2 linked regions of the Homo sapiens genome follow. The protein of the gene in region 2 purifies or fractionates together with the protein of the main gene of each other region. This does not show direct contact. Each region holds a gene or a part of one and is shown on either strand. Other genes may lie near its edges.

Region 1 (3,749 bases), on a different chromosome or scaffold from region 2:
ATGTTCTGGGGTTGTCTCGCTGGATGGTTCTGTTGCGAGAGGAGGCTCTGGGATTGTCCCGTCGGGCACAGGATGTTCTGGGGTTCTCTTGTTGGGTGGTTCTGTTAGGAGAGGAGGCTCTGGGATCGTCCCGTTGGGCACAGGATGTTCTGGGGTTCTCTTGTTGGATGGTTCTGCTGGGAGAGGAGGCTCTGGGATTGTCCCGTAGGGCACAGGATGTTCTGGGGTTCTCTTGTTGGATGGTTCTGTTAGGAGAGGAGGCTCTGGGATCGTCCCGTCGGGCACAGGATGTTCTGGGGCTGTCTTGTTGGGTGGTTCTGTTGGGAGAGGAGGCTCTGGGATTGTCCCGCTGGGCACAGGATGTTCTGGGGTTATCTCGTGTGGCTCTATTGGGAGAGGAGGTTCTGGAGGCTCTGGGATTGTCCCGCTGGGCACAGGATGTTGTGGGGTTGTCTCGTGTAGCTCTATTGGGAGAGGAGGCTCTGGGATTGTCCCGCTGGGCACAGGATGTTCTGGGGTTGTCTCGTGTGGCTCTATTGGGAGAGGAGGTTCTGGAGGCTCTGGGATTGTCCCGCTGGGCACAGGATGTTGTGGGGTTGTCTCGTGCAGCTCTATTGGGAGAGGAGGCTCTGGGATTGTCCCGCTGGGCGCAGGATGTTCTGGGGTTGTCTCGTGTGGCTCTATTGGGAGAGGAGGTTCTGGAGGCTCTGGGATTGTCCCGCTGGGCACAGGATGTTGTGGGGTTGTCTCGTGTAGCTCTACTGGGAGAGGAGGCTCTGGGATTGTCCCGCTGGGCACAGGATGTTCTGGGGTTGTCTCGTGTGGCTCTATTGGGAGAGGAGGTTCTGGAGGCTCTGGGATTGTCCCGCTGGGCACAGGATGTTGTGGGGTTGTCTCGTGTAGCTCTACTGGGAGAGGAGGCTCTGGGATTGTCCCGCTGGGCGCAGGATGTTCTGGGGTTGTCTCGTGTGGCTCTATTGGGAGAGGAGGTTCTGGAGGCTTTGGGATTGTCCCGCTGGGCACAGGATGTTCTGGAATTCTCTCGTTGAGTGGTTCTGTTGGGAGAGGAGGCTCTGGGATCGTCCTGCTGGACACAGGGTGTCCTGGGGTTTTCCCGCTGGGGAGTACAAGTAGGAAAAGAAGTTTGGGGGTTGTCCTGCTGGGTAGAAGAGGTTCTGGGGTTATCCAGTTGGGTGCTTCGTGAGGGAGAGGAAGCTCTGGGGGTGTTCCACTGTGTAGATGAGGCCCTGGGGGTGTCCTCTTGGGTGGATGAGGCCCTAGGGGTGTCCTCTTGGGTGGATGAGGCCCTGGAGGTTTCCTGTTGGGTGGATGAGGCCCTGGAGATTTCCTGTTGGGTGGATGAGGCCCTGGAGGTGTCCCTTTGGGTGATTCGATGGGGAGAGGAGGCTCTGGGGATTTCACGTGTAGAGGCAGCCTGAGCAGTGTCCCTTTGGGCAGGAGAAGCCTGAGACGTGGTGCTTCGAGGTCCACTGTGTGGTGTCATGGAGGAAGCCTGGGTCAGTGTTGACCGGTGCCGCTCCAGGGACAACCCGCTTTCTCCCCGGAGCCTTGCCCAGTGCTGTCCTGCGCTCCGGCCCCCACCGCCGGTGTCTGGAGAGAGAAGAGAGGGGCTCAAGGTAAGGGGAGAGGTCCAGGCAGCTCTCATATTCTACCTTTCTTTGTCCCTTAGGACCAGTGATTAGGGCAAACCCCACACCCTCCTCCTACAGGTCTCACTGTCTGTACCAAGTGACTCCACCTCTCTGACCAAGGCTGATTAGACAAGGGCTTGGATGCCTCTCTCAAGCTGAGGTCAAGAATTTGAAATTGAGACCCTGACTCACTCAAGAGATGGGTTCAAGAACTGGAAGGCCACAGGGTCTGGGGATCCACGGACAAGACAGAGAAGAAGCAAATTTGTGGAGAGAAGTGTTGACAATGGCCTGTGTGACCCCAGGGAGGGAGAGGTGGGCCCAACAGCAGCCACCTGACAGTCTTCCCTTCCCAGTTCTATTTCCTTCAATCAGAATCCAAGGAATTCCCCCCATTTCTTGTTTTGTTTTGTTTTTGAGTCAGAGTCTCGCTCTGTCGCCCAGGCTGGAGTGCAGTGGCGTGATCTCGGCTCATGGCAACCTCCGCCTCCCAGGTTCAAGCCATTCTCCTGCCTCAGCCTCCCGAGTAGCTGGGATTACAGGCATGCGCCACCATGCCCAGCTAATTTTTGTATTTTTAGTAGAGACGGGGTTTCACCATGTTGGCCAGGCTGGTCTCGAACTCCTGACCTCAGGTGATCCGCTCACCTCGGCCTCCCAAAGTGCTGGGATTACAGGCGTGAGCCACCATGCCCGACCTTTTTTTTTTTTTTTTTGAGACAGAGTCTCGTTCTGTCACCCAGGCTAGAGTGCAATGACGCGATCTCGGCTCACCGCAACCTAAGCCTCCTGGGTTCAAATGATTCTCCTGCCTCAGCCTCCCAAGTAGTTGGGATTACAGGCATGCACCACTATGCCCAGCTCATTTTTGTGTTTTTAGTAGAGACAGGTTCTAATGAGCCTGTTTCCTGTGCGACAGCTCTAGAAAGCCCCTGTTTTTTTGTATCCAAATGTTCCTACCCTGAGGCTTCTCCTAGGGCTGCCATGAGGATAGGAAAGGTGCAGGGATGGACAACCTTTTATAAACTGGTAGCTGGGAGTTTGCCAGAAATGCAGAATCTCAGGTCCCAGCCCAGATGCACTGCTTCTGGATCTGCATTTAACAAAACTGTCTGGTGATTTGTACACCTTATAGTTTCAGAAGCACTGGCCTAAAGGATTAATGTAACTGTCCTCAGTAGTGACCCTCTTTGCAACTCCTAGCCTCATGACAGAGTTGCCATGACCTTGGTGTGTCACCCTCCACCCCGCTCAATCCCTCGGTCACCAAGCAGGTGTTGAGCACCCCTATGTACATGTCCCTTGGCTACTGCTTTAGGTGAAGAGTAAAGGGTATCATGGCCTCATCTTAAAGGAGCCACAACTATGGGTGTGGTGGCTTACACCTGTAATCCCAGCACTTTGAGAGGCCAAGGTGGGAGGATCACTCGAGCTCAGGAGTTCCAGACCAGCCTAGGCAACATGGCGAGACCCTGTCTCTACTACAAGTTTTTTAAAACTTAGCAGGGCCTGGTGGTACGTGCCTGTAGTCCCAGCTACCTAGGAGGCTGAGGCCGGAGGAGTGCCTGAGCCCAGGAGGTGGAGGTTGCAGTGAGCCAAGAATGTGCCATTGCCCTCCAGCATGGGCAACAGAGCAAGACATTGTCTTAAAACAAAAAACGAAACAAAAAAGTAGCCACAGTTGCCTTCATGCAGATCCCCTCCCTTCACGCCTTCTTAAGATCCCCTGTCCTCTCCCTTTGCAGCCACTGCCTCGTCCAGCCTCTCTGGGCTGGTGTTGGTGAAAGTCTGAGTTCCCAGCACCTAGCAGGGAATTCAAAATTTGCAAGGTTGCCAGGCACGGTGGCTCACGCCTGTAATGCTAACACTTTGGGAGGCCAAGGCGGGTGGATCATCTGAGGTCAGGAGTTCGAGACCAGCCTGGCCAACATGGTGAAACCAGTCTCTACTAAAAATACAAAAATTAGCTGGATGCAGCCGGGAGCAGTGGCTGATGCCTGTAATCCCAGCACTTTGGGAGGCCGAGGCGGGCGGATCACAAGGTCAGGAGATCGATACCAGCCCTGCTAACACGGTGAAACCCCATCTCTACTAAAA
Region 2 (3,749 bases):
AACTCTGCCTTCAGTAAAGTGCAGGAAGTGGACTGGATGGGGTTAGAAGTGCAGAGAGGGATCTGCAAAGAGAAAATAGGTAATAAGGAATCGAGATGTAAGCAGATCTGCTACCCACTCCCCAAAAAACACACAGGAGAGTAGCCCCACATCTTCTTCTCCAACCCCTCAGACAGGGCGAGTGGATAAGAACTACCCACTGGTCACTGGGCACACTGCCCCTGTGCTGGATATTGACTGGTGTCCACACAATGACAACGTTATCGCCAGTGCCTCAGACGACACCACCATCATGGTAGGAGCCAGGTGGCTACTGCTGGGCAGTTGAGCAGGGGAGCAGGGAAGGCTGCCTCACCTGTGCTGGGGAAGGTGCTAAGGGTGGTAATAAGGGAGGTGCTGGGTCCCAGGGCCCTGCCCTGCCCAGCTCCTGGACTATTTTTAGCTACATGCCCACCCCCTCCCAGGATGCACTGCTTAGGACTAATTATAGCCATGGCCAACTTGGTGCCTGGAGAGCAGCAGGGCAGTGCTCTGAAGTCTCCCTGCTGGAGTGAATGGGAGGTCTCTGGAGAGCTGGCAGTGCCCCCTCCTGGCTCCCAGCTGCTTCTGTTCTAGGCATGCACCACCACATCTTGCCCTGTATTTGACCCTTACCACTCAAGAGAGCCAGTAGGGTTAAAAAAAAAGGTAGGGAAGGAGTGGAGGGACAGGGTGGCTCCTCATTCCACCCACCATATACCTTTTCTTCCTACCCAGGTGTGGCAGATTCCAGACTATACCCCCATGCGCAACATTACGGAACCTATCATCACACTTGAGGGCCACTCCAAGCGTGTGGGCATCCTCTCCTGGCACCCTACTGCCAGGAATGTCCTGCTCAGTGCAGGTCTGGGGGCTAAGGAGGGGTCCCCCATAGATGGGTGGGTGGTGGCAAAGGTGGGACCCAGGTGACCATGCCTGGCCACTCTGGGCAGGTGGTGACAATGTGATCATCATCTGGAATGTGGGCACCGGGGAGGTGCTGCTGAGCCTGGATGATATGCACCCAGACGTCATCCACAGTGTGTGCTGGAACAGCAACGGTAGCCTGCTAGCCACCACCTGCAAGGACAAGACCTTGCGCATCATTGACCCCAGAAAAGGCCAAGTGGTGGCGGTGAGTGCCTGGCCTGGCCACTCCCCAGAACCCCTTGACCAGTGGCCAGCTGTCAGCACCCTTGTACCCACCATTATCAGAGCCCCTGGTCCCGGCTTTCACCTGTCGCATCCCTGCTCCAGAGACTAGCCCCCTTCCCCCGTCTCTGCAACCACAGGTCTCTGCCCTAAGTAAGCCCCCAGCCTGCAATTCTCTGCCCGGCTCCTGTTCCCTCCCCTCCCTTGCATCTCAGAAGCTCAGAGAAGGGCTCCTCGCTTTGGGATTGAGGAGGGGAGAAGCTGGAAACTCCATCCTCCCACCAGAACCTGCATGAAACCTGAGCTCCTGGACCCCTCTCCTCTCAGCCGGCACCCAGACGCATCTTCCAGGGTCTGGGGCCTGACACTGGCTCGAGGGCTGGCCCTTTCTCCTTGTGGACCCGCTGGGCGGGGGATGGGGCAACCCTCGCGCGTTGCTTATCCCAGCCGGATGCCCTGGGAGGGCGGCGGCCCTGGCCTCGCCAGCCTCAAGTCTAACCTGGGGTGCGGGTGCGTGGGCCGCGTGCATGTCTGCGTGGAGCAAGCGCGCCGAGAGCGGTCGGGGCTGGCGCCGGGGCGCTCTAACCCACTAACCCGGCGAGCAGGAGCAAGCCCGGCCTCACGAGGGCGCCCGCCCGCTGCGGGCTGTCTTCACCGCAGACGGGAAGCTGCTCAGCACCGGCTTCAGCAGGATGAGTGAGCGGCAACTCGCGCTCTGGGACCCGGTAGGCCAGGCCGCGCCGGGCGCGCTAGCTCGCTCCTTCTCTGGGTCTGCCGGGAGCGCCTTCCCGGGCTGTGGCTGGCGCCCAAGAGGCCAGAGCGGAGCGGGGAGCTCCCATTCGGGAAAAGCCTCGCTGCGACTCCGGGGAGCCAGCAGACACCCCTGCTCTAGGGATCGGCCTTTGAGCGCGCTTAAGGGTTCGGGATCGGCTGAGAGCCGCGTGCCTCCTGCTCTCTCCAGGCCCGGATGCTCTCCAGGTCAGGGGCCAGACGTGGCCCCGCAGGAAGCTGAGTGCTTAGGCCCCATTTGTCTCTTCCCCGCATCCGCTCCTCCACCCCGGACACCCAAGTCAGCAAGCTGGTTGCTCATCCCTCCATGCTCCTCAGGGCAGGCAGCTGGGTGATGTCCCTCCCTGTCTCCCCCTCCCCCCAGGAGAGGTTTGCGGCCCACGAGGGGATGAGGCCCATGCGGGCCGTCTTCACGCGCCAGGGCCATATCTTCACCACGGGCTTCACCCGCATGAGCCAGCGAGAGCTGGGCCTGTGGGACCCGGTAACGCAGCTGGAGGCTTGGGGTGTGTGCCTCGGGGACTGGCATCACGGGAGAGTGGCCAGGCGCCCCCCACCCGCAGGGCATGCCCACCTGGACAGGACTGAAGGCTGCTGCCACCTCTGCAGCGCCTGCCATTCTCACACCCACCCCTCTGCCCAGTTTTGCTGCGTCGCGTGAAGGATCCTGCGCTGGCGCCCCCACCTGGTGATGCCGAGTCCCTGGGGGTGGTTTGCTGTGACTGCATGCGGCGCGCAGCGGGTATATGTGCAGGGGAGGAGGAGCTATGTGCGCAGGGGAGGAGGAGAGATGTGCCCAGGGGAGGGGCCTGCAACTCTGGTCACTAGAGGTTTGGGGCATAGGGTTTGGGAAGGCCAGGAAGCGTAAAGGGGCTTCTGGGGGTCCCGAAGTAGCACGGGAGGGTGGGGCAGGGCTGGTCACGCCTCCTGTGCTCGGGCAGAACAACTTCGAGGAGCCAGTGGCACTGCAGGAGATGGACACAAGCAACGGGGTCCTATTGCCCTTTTACGATCCCGACTCCAGCATCGTCTACCTGTGTGGCAAGGTGCTCACGGCCGGGCAGGGAGAACAGGGCACTGGATGGAGATGTGGAGGGCCTTGTCCGGGCGCGCCCCTGAACCGACTGATTTTGCAGGGCGACAGCAGCATTCGGTACTTTGAGATTACCGACGAGCCGCCTTTCGTGCACTACCTGAACACGTTCAGCAGCAAAGAGCCGCAGCGGGGCATGGGTTTCATGCCCAAAAGGGGACTGGATGTCAGCAAGTGTGAGATCGCCCGGTCAGCAGCCTTGGCCCCTCCTGAACACCTACCCGCCTCTGTCCCCCACTCATGTCGGGTCCTAGCCACGGGGCTTCCCCAGTAATGCAGTGCTTTGGAAAAGCGGGGCGGGGGGATAAGACAGCTCTGTTTCAGTGCCAGACCCACCGCTCACTAGCCTTACATTCTCAACTTCAGTTTCCTCATCTATAAGATGATGGTGAACACACCATCAGGGTGTTTTATTGCAGAACCAATAATGTGTGTAATGTGCAATATGCATGGTAGGCGCTGAGCAAGTGTTGGCCTCCAACCCCCTTGGTCTTAGACAGGAGAAGTTAAGGACGTGGAAGTCTGCGAGGGTGCTGAACCCTGCTCCCTTATAGGTTCTACAAGCTACACGAAAGAAAGTGTGAACCTATCATCATGACTGTGCCCCGCAAGGTGAGGGGCCGGGAGAAGGGTTGGGCAGGGCTACGAGGCGGAAGGGAGCGGAGCAAGCCCCGCACCCTCTCACGCAAGTCCT

Evidence for each region. The genes of interacting proteins can lie anywhere in the genome.
Region 1: the proteins of CORO6 (region 2) and TRIOBP purify together in Homo sapiens (affinity purification with mass spectrometry; 2 studies listed by BioGRID and IntAct, with this or other methods). This does not show direct contact.

Annotation. Positions count from the first base shown.
Region 1 is NC_000022.11:37,721,047-37,724,795, reverse strand, and holds part of TRIOBP (TRIO and F-actin-binding protein), read right to left. Parts: intron 1,612-3,749; coding exon 1-1,611.
Region 2 is NC_000017.11:29,616,197-29,619,945, reverse strand, and holds part of CORO6 (coronin-6), read left to right. Parts: intron 1-172; coding exon 173-295; intron 296-756; coding exon 757-886; intron 887-974; coding exon 975-1,156; intron 1,157-1,313; coding exon of another isoform or gene 1,314-1,469; exon of another isoform or gene 1,470-2,326; coding exon 2,327-2,446; coding exon of another isoform or gene 2,447-2,468; exon of another isoform or gene 2,469-2,605; coding exon of another isoform or gene 2,606-2,704; intron 2,705-2,903; coding exon 2,904-3,008; intron 3,009-3,098; coding exon 3,099-3,244; exon of another isoform or gene 3,245-3,245; intron 3,246-3,609; coding exon 3,610-3,667; intron 3,668-3,749.